2 separate regions of the Homo sapiens genome follow, and region 1 is linked to region 2. Evidence: fine-mapped expression QTL. A gene starts in region 2. The other region holds a variant in brackets. All regions are shown on one strand. Distances are between the middles of the regions.

Region 1 (9,728 bases), 160 kb before region 2:
TTTTACTTCAGAGCCCTTAGCTCATTAATTATAATTATTTTAAATTTCCTGCCTGATAATTCCAAAATTTGTGTCATGTTTGAATCTGATTCTGATGGTAGTATTTTATCTCTAGAAGTTTTTCTTGACTTTTAGTATGCCTTGTAATTTTATGTCAAAGCCCAGATGTGTTGTATCAGGTAATAAGGGTTAAATAAGTTTTTAGTGTGAAGATTTGTGGTCATCTGGGTAGGAGTTAGGCTATCTTTAATGTTTGCTGCAGCTATGCCAGAGGCTTCAAATTCCCCCAAGTGTCCTTATTGGTGTCTCCCCTCTTGACTTTAGGCTTCCCTAAGTACTCCTCCTTAGATAGAGTATATACCTTGCAGTTTCTTGGCTGCAATCTGCTGTTATTATACTGGAGCCCTGTTGGTGTGGTGGTAAGATGAATGGAAGAAGTGTCCTATAGTCTGATTAAATCTCAATATTTTAGTGGACCTGTGACTCAGTGCTGTGACCTTCACAAGAGTTTCATCACAATATAGCTTTTTTTCTCCCTGCCTTCCTTGGCTGTGTAATTTATAGTCTATTTTCTTAAAGCCCTCACATCTGTTGTCTATGTTTTTCCCCTGTCCGGTGAGACAGGAAGGCTAGAGACGGTTGAAGAAAAAGGAATCTGTCTCTTCTTGGTGCAACAATTTCCCGGCAAAATTTTTATCCCTGGAGAGTAGGTATTCATTATGAAGACTATGTGCATATTTCACAATGATTACTCTCTCCTTGCCAGAGTTACAAAAAGATTTTTCTGATATTCATCATGAGAACCTAGTAAGGTTCTTGAAGCTAAAAACCCATGGAATTGTGGCAGTCACCCTAAGACTGCACTCCCCAGGAGTTACTCAACCTCACCCTCATGCTAATCCACACTCAACCTCCAGCAATTTCCCAACATAACACCAAAGTGCTATAGTTTATGACTCCAGAAGCTTCCATCTTAGGTAGGTAGCTGTTAACTGTGTCTCTTTGGAGGGACCTGTCTCCCCAGATTTCAGGGTGATGGTTTGCCCTGCAACCTCATTCCACAATAAGTCCAAGAAAAGTCATTAGTTTTCAATTTGACTAGGTTTTTATGGTTGTAAAAATGGAAGTGACAACTTCCAATTTCTTCACATATAGAAGCTGAAACCAGAAGTCCTTTCAGCATTAACCTAATTACAATGTTACATAAAGAAAGGCTTTTGATTAAAAAGAAAAAATAAATGTATAAGGCATTTCAAAACCAAAGATTCTCCAAGCCAGTGAAGCATCTTCCTCAGAACTTCTACTGGGAAACAGGAGTAGGAGCATGACAACCCAGGAGGCTGGGGGTGGTGTTTCTTCCCAGAACATCCACAAACTTCCTCTAGAAGAGCCTGATTTCATTCCTAGCTCACTCTACCCCAAAGACAATCTTTTAACTATAATGATTACATTTGAAGAGATCTGGTTCCAGGCACAATGAGATATGGCTCCTGACACATTGAAATAATAAGCCATCACTGTGTTCCCCTTTATTTCAAAGATGGAATATTTACAATAAATATATAGCCATAATCTAGGAAGTATCAGTGTCAGGCAAACATTCTTGAATTTGAAAATTGAGACCAGGCACAGTGGCTCACACCTGTAATCCCAACACTTCGGGAGGCTGAGGCAGGAGGATCACCTGAGGCCTTGAAATCAAGACCAGCCTGGGCAACATAGTGAGACCCCATCTCTTCAAATAAAACTTTTTAATTCACTGGGCATTGTGGTGTAGTCCTAGCTACTCAGAAGTCTGAGGCAGAAGGATAACTTGAGCCTCAGAGTTTGAGGCTGCAGTGAGCTATGACTGTGTCACTGCACCCTGGCCTGAGTGACAGAGCAAGACCCTGTATCTAAAATAATAATAATAATAATTTTTAATTGGATGTCTCTACTCAGTTTCGCATAGTCTCAATATCAATATGTTATTATATAGAATATGTTCACTTCCTTGTCCATGGGTACATTTTTCAAATGTGTAAATGATCCCATCATCCATGTCCCAAAGTTATGTTAAAAATGTCTTACTCAAATATTAAACAAGACTAGAAACCAAAGAAATAAAAATTAAAAGAAGAATGATGTATTTTTTACCCACACTACATTCACAAAATAAGAAACTCCAGAAGAGCAGAGAGAACAGTGGAGCAGAAGCCAGGTGCCAGATGGCCTGGATTTGAATCAGCTCCACAGCTGACCACTGTGTCACCTTAGGAAAGTCACTTGGCCACTTATCTCTATGCTTTGGTGTTCTCACTGGAAAATGGGAATAATAGTAGCACCTGTGAATGTTGTAAAGATTAAATGAAAGAATCCATTAAAAGCTTAAGACAGTATCCAGCAGAGAGTGAACACTAAATAAGTTTTAATTTTTGCCAACTCCAGTGTTATTGTGCATATCTGAAATACTCCAGTGTGTCAGTTCCATACATGCCCAGCCTGTAACCTATTCACACTTCAAAACTTCTGGCTGAAATTGCCTAGTACTTCATACCCCTTTTGGCTTCTCCATCCCCATTGTCTCTTTAATCTTTTAAGAGTCGATAAGACTTTTGACCCAGAGATCGAAGCCATCCTGGCCAACACAGTGAAAGCCTGTCTCTACTAAAAAGACAAAAATTAGCCAGGCATGGTGGCATGCGCCTGTAGTCGCAGCTACTCGGGAGGCTGAGGCAAGAGAATCGCTTGAACCCGGGAGGCTGAAGTTGCAGTGAGCTGAGATCGCGCCACTGCACCCCAGCCTGGTGACAGAGCAAGAGTCCATCTCAAAAAAAAAACACTTTTGACCCATTTTATGACTTCCGATTTCCATTTGTTCCTCTACATGGAAGTCCACCTCTGGCTTGAATTTCACAACAGAATTTCATCTTCACTATGTTTGGTTTTCAGCAAATCCCTGGAAAGAACTCACAGTGCCCTTCCACCTCTTCCCACATGAGTAGACCCATTCCACTTGACCCTGCTCTGGCTTTTTGGATTCCCCATCTGTCACAGGGCACACACACCTCAAAATTGGGGTTCAGCCTGAGAGGCCATGGGGATTCTTGGCTTCATGCAGGAAGGAATTAATGAACCAGCCAATACAGTAAAGTAAAAGCAAGTTTATTAAGAAAGTAAAGAAATAGCCGGGGACAGTGGCTCACGCCTGTAATCCCAGCGCTTTGGGAGGCCGAGGTGGGTGGATCAAGAGGTCAGGAGTTTGAGACCAGCCTGGCCAATATGGTGAAACCCCATTTCTACTATAAATACAAAAATTACCCAGGCATGGTGGCGCGTGCCTGTAGTCCCAGCTACTCAGGAGGCTGAGGCAGGAGAATCGCTTGAACCCGGGAGGCGGAGGTTGCAGTGAGCCGAGATGGCGCCACTGCACTCTAGCCAGGGCAACGGAGTGAGATGCTGTCTCAAAGAAAAAAAAGAAATAAAAGGGTGGCTACTCCACAGGCAGAGCAGCCTGGGGGCTGCTGGTTGGCTATTTTTATTGTTATTTCTTGATCATATGCTAAACAGGGGGTGGATTATTCATGAGTCTTTTAGGAAAGAAGTAGGGAATTCCCAGAACTGAGGGTTTATCTCCATTTCAAACCATATAGGGTCACTTCTGGATGTTGCCATGGCACTTGTAAATCATTATGTTGCTGGTGGGAATTTCCTTTAGTATGCTAATACATCATAATTCATGTAAAATGAGCAGTGAGGACAACAAGAGGACACTTTTGTTGCCATCTTCATTTTGGCTGGCCTTTTTTTTTTTTTTTTTTTTTTTTTTGAGACAGGGTCTCACTCTGTCTCCCAGGCTGAAGTGCAGTAGCATGATCTTAGTTCACTGCAACCTCTGCCTCCTGGGTTCAAGCGATTCTCCCACCTCAGCCTCCCAAGTAGCTAGGACTATAGGTGCATGCCACCATGCCTGGCTAATTTTTGTATTTTTTGGTAGACACAGGGTTTCACCATGTTGGCCAGGCTGGTCTTGAACTCCTGACCTCAAGCCATCCGCCCTCCTCGGCCTCCCAAATTACTGGGATTACAGGCTTGAGACTGGACTTGGCTGGCTTCTTTACCACCTCCTGTTTTATCAGTGGGGTCTTTGTGACCCATATCTGGTGAAACCAGTCCTGCCAAACTCCTAGCTCACATTCACTAAGCAAACCTTAACTGGCGACATCATAATCAGTAAACTCTTTAAAAGGCAATATAAGATAGATAGATAGATAGATAGATAGATAGATAGATAGATAGATAGATAGATGATAGAGCTTAAATGTTCATCCTCTGTGACTCAGTAACCTTGCTTTCGAAATACATCTTGAGAATAATACAAAATATAGGTGAAAAAAATACAGCAGACATTTTTCAATATGGCTTTATTTATGGTAGTGATGAATTAGAAGCAAACTAAATGTTCTACAGTGGAGGAGTGCTTAATTAACTGAGGACACATCCATTCCATGGAATATTATACAGTCATAAAAAGAATAATTATAAAGACTACATTGCAACTCAGAATAATGCTCATGAGTCAGTGAAACAGCCAAGGATGCAACTGTATATTCCATACAATTATAATTATGTAAAAATATGGATGCATATAGAAAGAAACCAGGAAAAAAAAAAGGATAGTAACTGTGTTAATGGGATTAGGAGTGGTTTTCTTTCTTTTTTTTAACATTCTGTAATATTATTACGTTGTTTTCACAGTAAAAAGATGTCCATTATAAATGTAAATAAACAGTTACAAGCCCAAATTCAGCCTCCAGAATCTCTTGTACTTTTAGCTCAAATGAATTATACTCCAGGCTTAATTTCTCATGCTCAAAGGATGTTCTAGAGGCAAATATTTTTTTCTTTCCCAACAGAATAAAGGAAGTAATTTTGTTTACTAAGG[T/A]AAATGTGACCTCCATGTTGAGTAATGTTATACAGAGATAACACTCTTGCTCCTGCATGAGCAGGGCATGTGTTTTGAATTATTATTCCCTCGTGGGGATAGATTGGAGCTGAGCTATCTTCTCTCCTTTCACTTTGCTCTCCATTCAGCTGATAATGAGGCATTTGTAAGGCTGAGGTCTGAGGGGCACTTGGGAGCCTGATCAAGCAAAGCAAATTGACCCATCTACCGAGCACACTGAGACCTTCTCCAAATACTCAATCCAAACAAGCTAAATTGAGCTATAACAGCATTGAGATAAAATGCTTGTAGGTGATTCTGTGCCAACCAGGTGAAGCACATTCTTTGACAACATAATGACAAATTATGTAGAATACCATCAGATAACATTGTGCATGTTTTAATATAAAGCACTTAGAGAAATAAGGGGAATTATCTAGGCTAATGATAAAGAATAAATACTATACTTACTGCTATGGTTTGAATGTACCCTCCAAAACTCATGTTGAAATTTAATTGCCATTGTGATTGTATAAAGAAGTGAGACCATTAAGAGTTGATTAGGCAATGTGGGTAGAGCCTTCATGAATGGATTAACATCTGGAGTGTGTTTATCTCGAGAATGTGTTGATATCAAAGCCAACTGGGCTCTCTCTTGCTCTCTTGCCCTTTTACCTTCCACCATGGGATGGCGTCACAAAGGCCCTCTCCAGATGCAGCCCTTTGACTTTGAACTTCCCAGCCTCCAGAACTGTAAGAAATAATTTTTTAAAAATAAATTACCCAGTCTGTGGTGTTTTTTTATAGCAGCATAAAACAGACTAAGACACATACTTACCAAATAATATACTTACAACCATAGTTTATGAGCATGATGAGGGGAGAGGATGTAATAAGGACCTCCTAACTTGGGTCTTCTTCCATCCTACCTTCTTATCTCTTTCTCGGTTCCTTCAAACCCACTGATAGTATTGTCTATACACACAGTCTCTGTTTTACTTCCCATAGGACTCTATAGCTTGGTGCTGTCTGCATGATAGTGAGTTCTCACACAATCTGGTCATTTAAAAGTGTGTCACACCTCCCCCCTCACTCTTTCTCTCTTGCTCCTGCTTTGCCATGTGACATGCAAGCTCCCGTTTCACCTTCCACCATGAGTGAAATCTTCCTGAGGCCTCACCAAAAAACATGCTTGCTGTACAGCCCGCAGAACTGTGAGCCAATTTAACCTCTTTTTGTTATAAATTACCCAGTGTCAGGTATTCCTTTATAGTAACGCAAGTACAGACTAACATAAATTATAACCTCAATCTAATCATGAGAAAACTTCAGACAAACCCAAATTGAAGGACATGCTACAACATATCTGAACAGTACTTTTCAAACATTTGAAGGTGAAGAAAGCCATAAAAGGGCTGAAAAACTGTCACAGATTAGAGAATAGTATGGAGACCTGACAACTAAATTCAATCTGATATTCTGGCTTCGATCCTGGAAGAGAAAAAGAACCTTAGTGGGAAAACTGGTGAGAATCTGAATAAAGTCTGTAGTTTAGTTATTAGGTATTTAGGTATTATACCAATGTTAATTTTTTTGTTTTGTTCATTATAATGTGGTTATGTATAATGTTGAAATTAGAGGAAGCTGGGTAGATAGTATACTAATAGGGATTCTATACATTTTTGCATCTCTTATGTAAGTCTAAGTCTAAAGTTATTTCAAACTAAGACATTTTTAAAAATTAGTGTCCCCAATACCTATAGAATCAAATCCAATTTCCTTAGCATAACATATAATATCCTTCATGATCTGATCTACTTGTCCAGTGCTATCTTCTATCCCTTGCTCACAGTTGCAATGTTTTAGCTATGTTAAACTTCTTACCTTGTGTCTTACTCTGTTTCTGCTGTTATAACAAAATATATTATACTGGGTAATTTATGAACAACAGGAATTTAGTACTTACAATTCTGGGGGCCATGAAATCCAAGATCATGACACCAGCAGATCCAGCGTCTGGTGAGGGCCAGATCTCTGCCTCAAAGATGGCACCTTGGTGCTGTGTCCTCGAAGGGTGAAAGGTGGAAAGCAGCTCCCTTCAGCCTCTTTTGTAAGGGTACTAATCCCACTCATAAGGGCTGAGCCCTCATAACTTAATCACTTCCCAAAATGTGCCAGCTTTCAATACTATCACATTGGGTATTAGGTTCCAACATATGAATCTGGGGGGCACACTAACATTCAGAACATAGAAACTTATATCATTTTTTTAATAAACACACACACACATCTGTGCACGCACGCACACACACACACACACACGCGGCCCAAACACAACTGTCTAATTTTGTTGTTAATAGACATATGATGATATGCTAATTGCCCTGATTTGACCATAACACATAGTATAACGTATAGAAATATCATGCTGTCCCCCATAAGTGTATACAATTATTATGTAACAATTAGAAATAATAATAAAGGCAAAAAAAAAAAAAAAGAATAAAGGGGCTGGGTGCAGTGGCTCATGCCTGTAATCCCAGCACTTTGGGAGGCTGAGGTGGGTGGATCACCCGAAGTCAGCAGTTTGAGACCAACACGGCGAAACTCCATCTCTACTGAAAATACAAAAATTAGCTGGGCGTGGTGGCAGGTGCCTGTAATCCTAGCTACTCAGGAGGCTGAGGCATGAGGATCGCTTGAACCAGGAGGTGAAAATTGCAGTGAGCCAAGATCATGCCACTGCACTCCAGCCTGGGGGATAGAGCAAGACTCTGTCTCCAAAAAAAATAAAAAATTAAAAAATAAAGGAAAGATTGCCCACCCACCCCTAAAAAAAACTTTAAAAAATAGACACAGGACTAAAATCCAAGTTTCCTGATTCCAAAATCACTGGTCTTAATAGAATCAGTATAATCCCTATCCACTCATTGGGCTCCCAAGTTATGACATTTGACATGCCATAGCTAAGTCAAGGTAGTCAACTCAATTTTACCATCAGCTTAACTGAATCTTTTAACAGAAAATAACACCGTATAATGGTATATGTCACAAATGGAATGAAGGACTCTGAACTCATTCATCTCAAATGTAAACACTACAATCAATTCTCATAAAGCCAAAGATGGGCACATTTATGCACATTTACAAAGTACATAGTTCTGCTTGCATTGGTCCCATTACAATCCTGTCTAAATCCTGAAGTAAAAATGAATACCATAGTGAAGAAATTACTTGTGCATGTGAAAGAGGCTGGTCCAACTCCTTAATTGCAACAGGGATTTGATTCTTCTACTAGTAGTTAGGAAAGGTTGCATTAATATTCAGTAGTTAAAATGTGCGATTCTAAATTTTTTGTAATTTCCCATGAGAGAATAAATTTTTTCAAAAATATTCCCAGTAGGTGAATGACTTTAATACATGGTATCTGTGAAGATGGCAAATAAAATGACTCATAGACTTATAATTTGGCGAACAGTTGAAATAGCTTTTCTTTATAGACAAGTTTTAGCCCTGTTCATTTGAGGTTGATTGAGATTGGTTATTGTACATAAGTATGTTGACAATTCTTTGAATTCTATTGACTTTTGGATTCCCAAGTTCTTTCCTGAAACCTGTATAAGCTAATACTTTAGAAGAGACAGCAGAAAAAAAGAGAGTACAGATAGATGGACCCAGAGGTGACTGAAAGTTCTGAAATAAAAGTAATGAATGTTAAGGGAAATTCTCTATTTCTCAATCTCCTGAGCTCTCTCTCCTCTATTTCTTGCTTGTAGAAGTAAAGGATGCCCTCTATTTATTTATTTTTTAAGAAATAGCAAGTTGAAGTAGCAAAAAAGGAAACTTCTTACTCCAGCAAGGAAAAGAGCCACTAGAAGCCACAGGAACAGACAAGCAATCATAGCAAGACAGAACGAACTGCAATCCCATCACAGGCTTTTCTTCACGGGGTGCTGGAGAACACCGTGGAGCACTCTGCAATTCACAGGCAGGACCAGATTAGAAATTGCCAGGACAGACGGAGTCACAGCAACTACACACCGACTAGTGATGAGCTCTCCTCCAGATATTCTTATCACTCAGGTAAACAACCCTTTTCCTTGAAAGTGCCACATCTGAGGATTCTAACCTCTTGAAGTAGGAGCTACTTTTCTGTCTCCCAAAGTCTAGAGGAAGATTTGCAGATTTGGATGGGCACGGCTGGCAGTTCCCAGGCAGGCAAACATTCAAACAAACCAAAAAAAAAAAAAAAAAACAGAAATTGTGGGGGATGGACCAGGAGACGGTTTAGTTCTAAGCCCCTCTCTCAGGAGGAGCACAGAAGTGTACATGAAAAAGACAACTGTCCTGAAGGCAGTAAAATTACTTTATGGATACATATTTGTTGGGGGAACTTAAAGATAGATAAATGAAAGAAAGAGAGATAAACAGGGATTAGCCTACATTAATAGAATAAGTTCTAGAAGTATATATCCATTGTATTAACAGTGCTTATCTCTGACCACTGAAATTATAGGTTGTTTTGTTTTGTTTTTGCTTCTGTAGCACATTTTTAATTCTTACAAGTTTCTAGGATAATCCTGGTCACTCACTGGGAGCCCCAGCTATGGGCAGCATCCTTTCTAGGAAAAAGATTAAACCAAATGATGAGCTGCTTCCTCTGACCCTACAATATTGTAATAAAAAACTGAAGAGGGAACAACAACAACAACAAAAAATCCAACAGGATCTGGGCACTGTCCTAAAAAGAAGAATAAACTTCTGGTGCATATTTCTATAGAAATATTCATTTTATTTGACAATT
Region 2 (9,023 bases):
GAGGCAAGTGGTCCCATCATGGGTGGGGTTGTAGGAAATGCCTGGGATATGATTGAATATTGTAGAGAGGTCAGGCAAGAGAGTGCAAGTGGCCTGGGAAAGAAGGGGCTGGGGAAATATAGAAAAGAAGAGGGAATAGAAAAAATAAAAGAGAAGAAAAAGCAGTAAGGGAGGAGATTTCCTGGACCTTTAAGGAGGGCTCTTCACCAGGAGCCTGGAGGAGGACTTAGGAAGGACTTCTTAGAACTGACATACTTGTGCCTCACCCTCGGGCCCATGTGTATAGATACCTGGTACCTCTCGAATAGAGTCACCCCCTTGCCTGCTGGAAAACAATGCAGCACAGTCCACCCCATAGGATCCCTGGTCCTCAAGGGCCAAGGGAGATGAAGACCTCACCCAGGGCCCCAGCTCCAACTCCTCCCAACCCAGCCTAGCTGGCAAAGCAATGGAGGCTGGGCTGCCCGTCCCACGCACCCGGTACCATACCTGGCCTTGCTGCCATCACCCATGATATGGAGGCTGCAGCTGCATTGAGAGGGGCAGAAGCCCCGGGCCTGGGGGGGCCACGCAAGGGCCAAGAGCCAGAGCATGCCTAATGCCACCCTCATGGCTCCTGGCTCCTCTCTGGCCCAGGCAGGGGCCTGTCCCTGGACCGCTCCGTCCCACCGGCCCAGCAAGCTCAGCAGCTGCCCACTTGCTCGCCAGCCCCTTACACCCCCTCCTGAGGCCATCGGATAAACATGGACAGACTGGGGATTAGGGAGGGGAGTCCCAGCCGCAGCACTCAGAGGCTTATTGCTTTCTGAATCACTCAGTCCTGAGGGTAGGGGCGGGGGACCCCCTTCCATAGCAATATCCACAGGCCCAGAGAGGCCAGGGCAGGGCACAGCAAAGCAAGACAAGTAGGCAGCTTTCCAGAGGCGAGCAGCCATGGGACTGTCATCTGCAAAGCATCCCATCCCAACAAGGCCACGGACAACACAGACCCCACTGGAGTGCCAGGGAAGATGGAGAAAGAACCCCCGCCTCAGTAAGGGCCTTTGGAAATTCTTTCCTGTGACACTGTCTCATAGCAAAAAAGCAGTGAAATGAAGCAACTCTTCCTGATGGTGCTAAAGGCATTGGAAGGAGGCTAAGCTCTGGACCCAGGCTTCCTGGGGTCAAATCCCAGCTGCTCCATTAAGGGGCTGTGACCTTGGGTGAGTCACATTATCTCTTGGCCTCTGTGTCCTTATCTGACAAAGAGAAATAAAGTTACTTCATGCAGGGTGTTTGTGAAAATCAAACTCAAATTCCAAGGCCTTGACAGCCTGTGGGAACAGAAGCTCTCTCACAAGTTGTAAGTGCCCAGTTTCACTGGTACTTATAAGACCCTACTTACAGAAGAACTGGACAGATTCAGATATTTTGGGGAGACATCAGAGGTGTCTCTCATGAGCCCACAAACTGTCCCAGGCTGCCAGGCAAACAGCTGCCTGCCTTGAGTGCCCCATGGATATGGACTCAACACACTACTATTTCAGCTGAGCCCTTCTGGGCATTGCTACGAATGCCAAAGGTGGAGATGTCTCCACATAAGGGACAAGGGCACCCCTCTCCTCAAGGTGCCCTACTCCAAGGAGGGCCCCAGAGAGGTAGCTCAGAGAGGTCTTAGAGAAGGCACTTTCAGGTTTTTTTGGAGACAGGACCCCAACCTCTAATAAGGGCCTTTGGAAATTCTCCATCCATAAAGCTTTGTTTTGCTTTATAGGGACAGGGTTGCTCTGTCACTCAGAGTGGAGTGCAATGGTGTAATCATAGCTCACTGTAGCCCCGAACTCCTGAGCTCAAGCCATCCTCCTGCCTCAGCCTCGCAAGTAGCTGGAACTGCAGGCAACCACCACCATGTTTGGCTATTTTTAAAAAATTATTTTTTGCAGTCAGGGTCTTGCCATGTTGCCCAGGATGGTCTCAAACTCCTGGCCTCAAGCGATCCTCCTACCTCAGTCTCCCAAAGTGCTGGGATTACAGGCCTGAGCCACTGCACCCAGACTAATTTCAATTTTTACTTATTCTCTCCTAACCCTATCTCGCCCCACCATATCTACTCAAGATGCCAGTGGGGACTGACCAGGGATGATTCCCAGCAGTAGACACTCAGTCGACTCATTCATTCATTCTTCACATTTGACCCTGAGGCATTGTTCTCTGGTCCAGCATGCCCTACCTATGTTGTTTGGCTTTTCTAGAAGGTTCCCCAGTCCTTCATGCCTGTGGCTCCAGGCAGGCCTAGACCAGTGAGGTATGACCTGCAAAGATATCTGGGGCCCCAGTGCACACATAAAATGCCTAGCTCGGAGCCAGGTCTGTTTCAACAATACTGGCTTCTCATTCTTTCCTTCCTTCCAATGCAGCCAGTAGGATTTTCTCAGTGCTTCCCAGCTATACTTCCACCTCCCCAAACCCAGCCGTCAGCTTGCCTGTTCCCACATCTCTGCTTCTTCCTCCTTGTGTCTTTTGCCCAAATGAACTTTACCCTTTAATCTTGGCCTTGCCCTGCTTTATCTCCTCTCATGAAGGCTTTTGTGATCTCGAAGGCATGAAAAAAGGACTGACATATGTATTAACCAACACCATAAGGTAGAAATTGAGACAGAAGGCCAGGCAGGGTGGCTCATGACTGTTATCCCAGCATTTTGGGAGTCCAAGGCCAGCAGATCACCTGAGGTCGGGAGTTCAAGACCAGCCTGACCAACATGGAGAAACCCTGTCTCTAATAAAAATACAAAATTAGCCGAGCATGGTGGCACATGCCTGTAATCCCAGCTACTCGGGAGGCTGAGGCAGGAGAATAGCTTGAACTGGGGAGGTAGAGGTTGCGTGAGCCGAGATTGCGCCATTGCACTCCAGCCTGGGCGACAGAGCGAGACTCCATCTCAAAAACAAACAAAAAAACAAAAAAGAAATTGAGAAAGAACAGGGAACGCTCTGGAGGGCGCAGCCATAAGCTCAGCCCTGCAGAGGGATTAGGCTTGGATGTAAGTGAGGACTCATGAGAGGAAAGGCCTGGGAAGTGGGCATTCCTGGAACAGAGTGGGTTGCTCTACCAGGTGAGTCAGAAGATGCCATTGAAAAATGCCTGAGCCTGAGGAATAGGAGATCGGCTTTTGTTCCAGCTCCATCCATAAATTACTGCATGGCCTCAGGCAGATTCTTAACTGTTTTTAGCCACAGTTTCCTCATCTAAAATGGAAAGGATAATGGTATCTAACTCATGGAGTTGTTGTAGGACTCATCAGAAGATCCCCTAGCACAGGGCCTGACCTCACTCAATATTAGCTATGTTGCTGATAGTGCTCTGGAGCTTGGTTTCTTTATCTGAAAATGAACTAAGTTGTCCTAGATCAGTATTTCCTGGTGTAAATTTTATCATGAGCCAGAGCATAACAGTGCATAAAGAGCCAGTGTATCAAGAAGTCATTTGTAGCAGCCAAAGCTCTTAGTGGGGCCGGCAAGGCTGGGCGGGTTCGGGGTCGGAGACTGACAAGACGGCAGGCAGCCCCTCTGTTCTAAGACAGTGTCCTAGGACATTTTTTATGCTCAGGTGCTCTATGGGAGACAGGAAATGCAGCCCTGAGGTTTATATTCGTGATATCTAACCAGGACTTATATAAAGGCCACAGACAAAAGACATTGACATTGCAGAAAAGTAAACGGAAGAGTCCAGTGGTCCCACTCCAAGGCGCATAACTAGTTAGTGGCAGATTCAGAACCAGAACCCCAACCCCATTTTCTGGTCCCAGATGGGGTTCTTCCTCTGACAGCAGGCGACTTCCCAAGCCTCATCCTTTCCCCAGCGCTTTGGAGTATACTCATGTGAGCCTGAGGACACACACACAGGCACCAGGCTTGTTGGGAACAGCTGCGGCTCAAATCCCTCCTCCTGCTCCCCTCCCCTGGTTATGCAACTCTTTTCCAATTAGGCTCTCAGCCACACACCATTTGGATTCCCCGACCTTAATCCTGTGCAATGGGGCTGAAATGAATGAGACAGGGCTCCATTCTGGCTTCACAAAGGCTGCATTGTCCAACTCGTGAATGGGTTCCTTCTGCTTGGGCCAAGAGGACCATTTGCAGCGGGGAGGCATCCAGAAACAGCCCAAGGTCCAACATAATAACCTGCATGTGCCTCCACGCACATGGGATGGCCCTTTAAAAGGGAGGGCCTGGCTGTGGGAAGCCAGAGACAGCTGGGCCACTGGCAGTGAGGGAGAGTGAGGATGGCAGAGACCAGTGCCCTGCCCACTGGCTTCGGGGAGCTCGAGGTGCTGGCTGTGGGGATGGTGCTACTGGTGGAAGGTGAGCCAGGCAGAACCTGGGGTGCAGCGGGGGCCCAGTGGGTTCTGAGGACCCAGGCCACCAGTGTGGAGCTGGCAAGGAGAGGAGAGGTCCCCAAACCCAGCTGGGTGTCCGGTCCCATTGGCTGCCTTCCCCTCTGTGCCCGGACTCGGGGGGTGTTCTGACAATTGAACCTGTGAGGTGCAGCACACTGCCCGCTGGGAGCAGAGAGGAAGCCAGGCAAGGGTCAGGGAGGGAGGGACTTTGAAAGGGGACATCTGCCCAGGAGATGATCAAGAGCCAGGCTTTAGGACTTTTCATGTCCCTCCAGCCGGGAGAAAATTTAATCCACTCCTTGGAAATCCTGCTGAGAATCCCACATAAGATCAGTCCCCCAAAAGGCTCTGGGGACAGACAGCTCTGCCTCCTGCTCTTGTGTGGCTGGAACCAAGTCCCTTCAGCTCTCTGCCCTCAATGCCTTGACATTCCGAATGGGTGGTTGTAAAGATTAAATGGGATAATGGGTATAAAGTGCTAGCCTAAATAGACTCTAGGGTATTTAAGTTCATTCACTCCCATCCTCTCCAGCCCCACCACTATTTTCACTGTGTCTACTCCTATGAGCCCAAGCACTTCACCTCTGGAGGCAACCTGGGTCTGCGAGGTACCTACCTCAACCTAGAATCCCTAAGATGCTCGCTGAGGCCAGAGCTAGAGACAGTGTCAATCCTGAATCTGGGCCAGCCCAAGCTAAATTGATGGAGAACGCAGCTTTGGTTCAAAGCAGACCCAGAGAAATCATCAGCACGTTTTCTCACCTAATGAGAACTGACAATGGAGAGGAAGTGACAGTCATTAGATTGGTCCTGAAGGCTCTGGACACGACTGTCTGGTGGCCCCAGCCCGTGTCTCCCTTTCCTGAGAACCCTACAATCTAGCATCCTTCCAGGTCCTCAAACATGCCATAAAATTTTACCACTTTATTTTTTGGAAGGGGTTTAAATTTACATTTTTATTTCATGTTTAATGACTAGAAATGTCATTATATACACAATGCTTTGGTTTTTATTTTATTTAAAATATGTTTTAAATTTCAATAGCTTTGGGGATACAAGTGATTTTTGTTTACATAGATGAATTACATCGTGGCAAATGCTAGGACTTTAGTGCACTCATCACCCAAGTAGCGTACATTGTGCCTCATTTGTAGGTTTTTTTAATCCCACTCCCTCTCCCACCCTTCCCCTTCTGAGTCTCCAGAGTCCATTGTGTCCTCTGAATGCCTTTGCGTACTCACGGTTTAGCTCCCACTTGTAACTGAGAACAAACAGCATTTGGTTTTCCATTCCTGAGTTACTTCACTTACAATAATGGCCTCCAGCTCCATCCAAATTGCTGTAATAAGACATTATTTCATTCCTTTTTACAGCTATTATTCCATGATGTATATATACTACATTTTCTTTATCCATTCATTGGTCAGTGGGCACTTACATTGATTTCGTATCTTTGCAATTGTGAATTGTGCCTCGGTAAGCATAGATGTGCATGTGTGTTTTTGGCTGGATTAAATGGCAGATCTACTTTTAGTTATTTAAGGAATCTCTATACTGTTTTCCATAGAGGTTGTATTAATTTACATATTCCCACCAGCAGTGCATAAGCATTCCCTTTTTACCACATCCATGGCATTGATCTATTGTTTTTTGACTTTTTAATGATGGTCATTCTTATAGGAGTAAGGTGGTATCTCATTGTACCATAGCATGTCTTTGCACATGCTATTCCCTCCTGGAATGCTCTTCCATGCACTGTCCTGCAGGTAAGTGCTTCTCATAGTTTTGAAGGCAGGATTTTTTCCTGTTCCTCACTTTAGATAGGGGAAGCTGAGGTTCAGAGAGCTTAAGGAGCAGCAAGCGAGGCAACCAAGCCAAAATTCAAGGTCGGGTCTCTCTGTTGCCAGAGTACGCCCCCTTCATGTTCACTTCCATGCCTGGCGTCCTGGGCAGCTCCCAGCTCTAACATCGACTCTTCTCCTTGGAGCCTCTCTGACTTTGCTCTACAGTCCTTGGAGAAGGCATTTTGAAATCCAAAAGGCCTGAATTCAAGTTCCAGCTCCACCGCTTACTAGCTGTGTACTTAGGGCAAGTTAGCTAGTGTCTCTGAGCCTCAGTTTCCCAGCTATAAATGGAGAAGAGAGTATCCAAGTAAAGATTGAATGAGATGACTCATATAAAGTGCTTATCCTGGTGCCTGGTGTGTGCTAAGTGCCTGGCAGCTGTCAGTGATTATGACTGTTATAGCATGAAGCATGCTACCCTATATTGATTGTCTTCCTTGTCTGTCCAGGAGGTTGCTGATGTTCCATCCACCCCACACACACTGTTCTGACCCCAGCTGGGCCTCAGCAGCCCCAATGCCAGCCCCCACCCTTCCTTTCAGCTCTCTCCGGTCTCAGCCTCAATACCCTGACCATCTTCTCTTTCTGCAAGACCCCGGAGCTGCGGACTCCCTGCCACCTACTGGTGCTGAGCTTGGCTCTTGCGGACAGTGGGATCAGCCTGAATGCCCTCGTTGCAGCCACATCCAGCCTTCTCCGGTACCAGCCCCCTCCCCAGTCCACAGGCTCTGGGGTCCTGCCTGGGGCCTGACCCCTGGGCCCTGGGCAGCCAGGCCAAGGGCATTTTTACTACTTACAGAAAATTGGCCAAGGGCAGAGGGTGGGCAGGCTAAAATGGGCTGAATTCCAGATTGATTCTGAAGAACGACAGCTGATTTCTGGAAGACAGGGGTTGCTGAAACCTGATGAAAGAGATGGTAGGCTGTAGAGATCAATGGTGTGGGTTCTGTAACCAAGCAACCTAGGTTTGCATTCTGGCTTCAGCATTTCTAGTTCTGGGCTTCTTCCATAAATCGGATATTATTTCCTAACTCATATAGGTGGTTGGAAGTATTTACTTCTATTATGTGTAAATAACTTAAAATAATGCTTGATACCTAGGACTCTACGTAAGTGTTTGTGAACACAAATGGGGGCGTTATCACCACTACTGCACCCGTATGTATCTGGGCTCCTGGAGTGGAGGGACACCGATGCAGTGTGGAGAGGATAAGAGGCAGGGAGGGGCAGTCATAACTAGCTAGTGTCTAATACCTCCTTATACAAAAACCAGGGTCTTCCATCACAGCTTCAGAAGGTGTTTATAAAATTGTTTTCTGAAGCAGACTGGACATTCTCATTCTGGTTTTGGACACTACAGACGGAGGCTGGAGCCCCCCCGGATGTGCATGCTCAGTGCTGACCAGCCTGGGGGGTCTGCATCAGTGAGAACTCTTCCTCCCACAGAGAATTGAAGTTTCCACCTTTGCTTGCCCTTTTAGGCTGGGGAGGCCTGGGATCTCCCCTCTGACTTTGCCTTCATCTTCTGTGTGACCTTGGCTTCAGTATCTTTGCCTCTTTGAATGTCAGTTTCCCCACCTATCAAATACAGGCATGAGCTCTCCTGTGACAGAGGGATCTGATCACGCAGAGAGAGCCTATGGCCCAACCATGGTGCAGTCAAAGTCACCCAGCCTGGAGAGTGTGCATTGGGCTCCACCCCTTCAGCCCAGTTACTTGAGCTCCAACGCCTCATAGGAAAGACACCAATATTAAGGCCCTCTTCAGAGAAGAAGGGCAGCATTCAGGAACACACACTCCAAGCTGTACTTGGCAGGTGTGGGAGGTGGAAAGGATCGGAGGAGAGGTCACTGGTGCCCAGTGTCTCCCACAGGCGCTGGCCCTACGGCTCGGACGGCTGCCAGGCTCACGGCTTCCAGGGCTTTGTGACAGCGTTGGCCAGCATCTGCAGCAGTGCAGCCATCGCATGGGGGCGTTATCACCACTACTGCACCCGTATGTATCTGGGCTCCTGGAGTGGAGGGACACCGATGCAGTGTGGAGAGGATAAGAGGCAGGGAGGGGCAGTCATAACTAGCTACTGCTCCGTGTTTCCCAGTACAGGGAAGTGTGGGTAGGTGTGAGTGTGCATGCATAGGCACTCATTTCAGGAAAGGAGGGAGGGTGGGAGAGTGTGCAGGAGAGCTGTTGGGCCTCTCTTGCCATTACCGCAACCTTGGGCAAGTCAGGGATCCTCTCTGAACCTTAGTCTCCTCCTCTGCGAAATGATTTTCTTTTTCTTTTTGAGACGGAATCGCTCTATTGCCCAGGCTGGAGTGCAGTGGTGTGACCTCGGCTCACTGCAACCTCGGCCTTCTGGTTTCAAGTGATTCTTTTGCCTCAGCCTCCTGAGTAGCTGGGACTACAGGCATGTGCCACCACACCTGGCTAATTTTTGTATTTTTAGTAGAGATGGGGTTTCACCATATTGGCTAGGCTGGTCTTGAACTCCTGACCTCGTGATCTACCCACCTCAGCCTCCCAAAGTGCTGGGATTACAGGCGTGAGCCACCGTACCCGGCTGAGATGATTTTAATAACCAATCTCAGTTTTATTTTGAAAATGAAATGAGATCAGGGATACAGAAAATGCCCTTGCAGACAGGCACTACTCTGCAGACAGGCGCAGAGAGGCTGTGTGTATGTGTGTGTAGCTGGGCATGTGCCCTGGCACCCCACACTTCCATGAGGCTTCATGAAAACTGTCCAGCTCTAGATTTCACAAGCTGCACTGTCAAATACCATCTTCATAATTGGCCATATCA

Which allele goes with the higher level. Positions count from the first base shown, and alleles are read on the strand shown. Sizes are in standard deviations (SD) of each study's normalised expression.
In carriers of allele A in region 1, the expression in visceral fat of the gene that starts at base 4,225 in region 2 tends to be higher than with T alone (small effect, 0.34 SD a copy in GTEx).

The links. PIP is the estimated chance that this variant, and not a neighbour inherited with it, causes the effect. A credible set is the group of variants that fine-mapping cannot tell apart.
Region 1: its variant is the best candidate, but not a certain one, in a credible set for the expression of RGR in visceral fat (GTEx, PIP 0.77).

The regions. Positions count from the first base shown.
Region 1 is chr10:84,083,799-84,093,526 of GRCh38, forward strand. No RefSeq gene overlaps it. Among named protein-coding and RNA genes, the nearest start is that of GHITM, 51 kb to the right of the region's middle. The variant T/A (reference allele first, on the strand shown) is at 4,925.
Region 2 is chr10:84,240,829-84,249,851 of GRCh38, forward strand. RGR (retinal G protein coupled receptor) reads left to right here and starts at 4,225. Exons shown (of 7, transcript NM_001012720.2): 1 at 4,225-4,341; 2 at 6,763-6,919; 3 at 8,094-8,215. The coding sequence starts at 4,263. LRIT1 (leucine rich repeat, Ig-like and transmembrane domains 1) reads right to left here and starts at 718. Exons shown (of 4, transcript NM_015613.3): 1 at 490-718. The coding sequence starts at 611. RefSeq lists an enhancer at 4,371-4,870.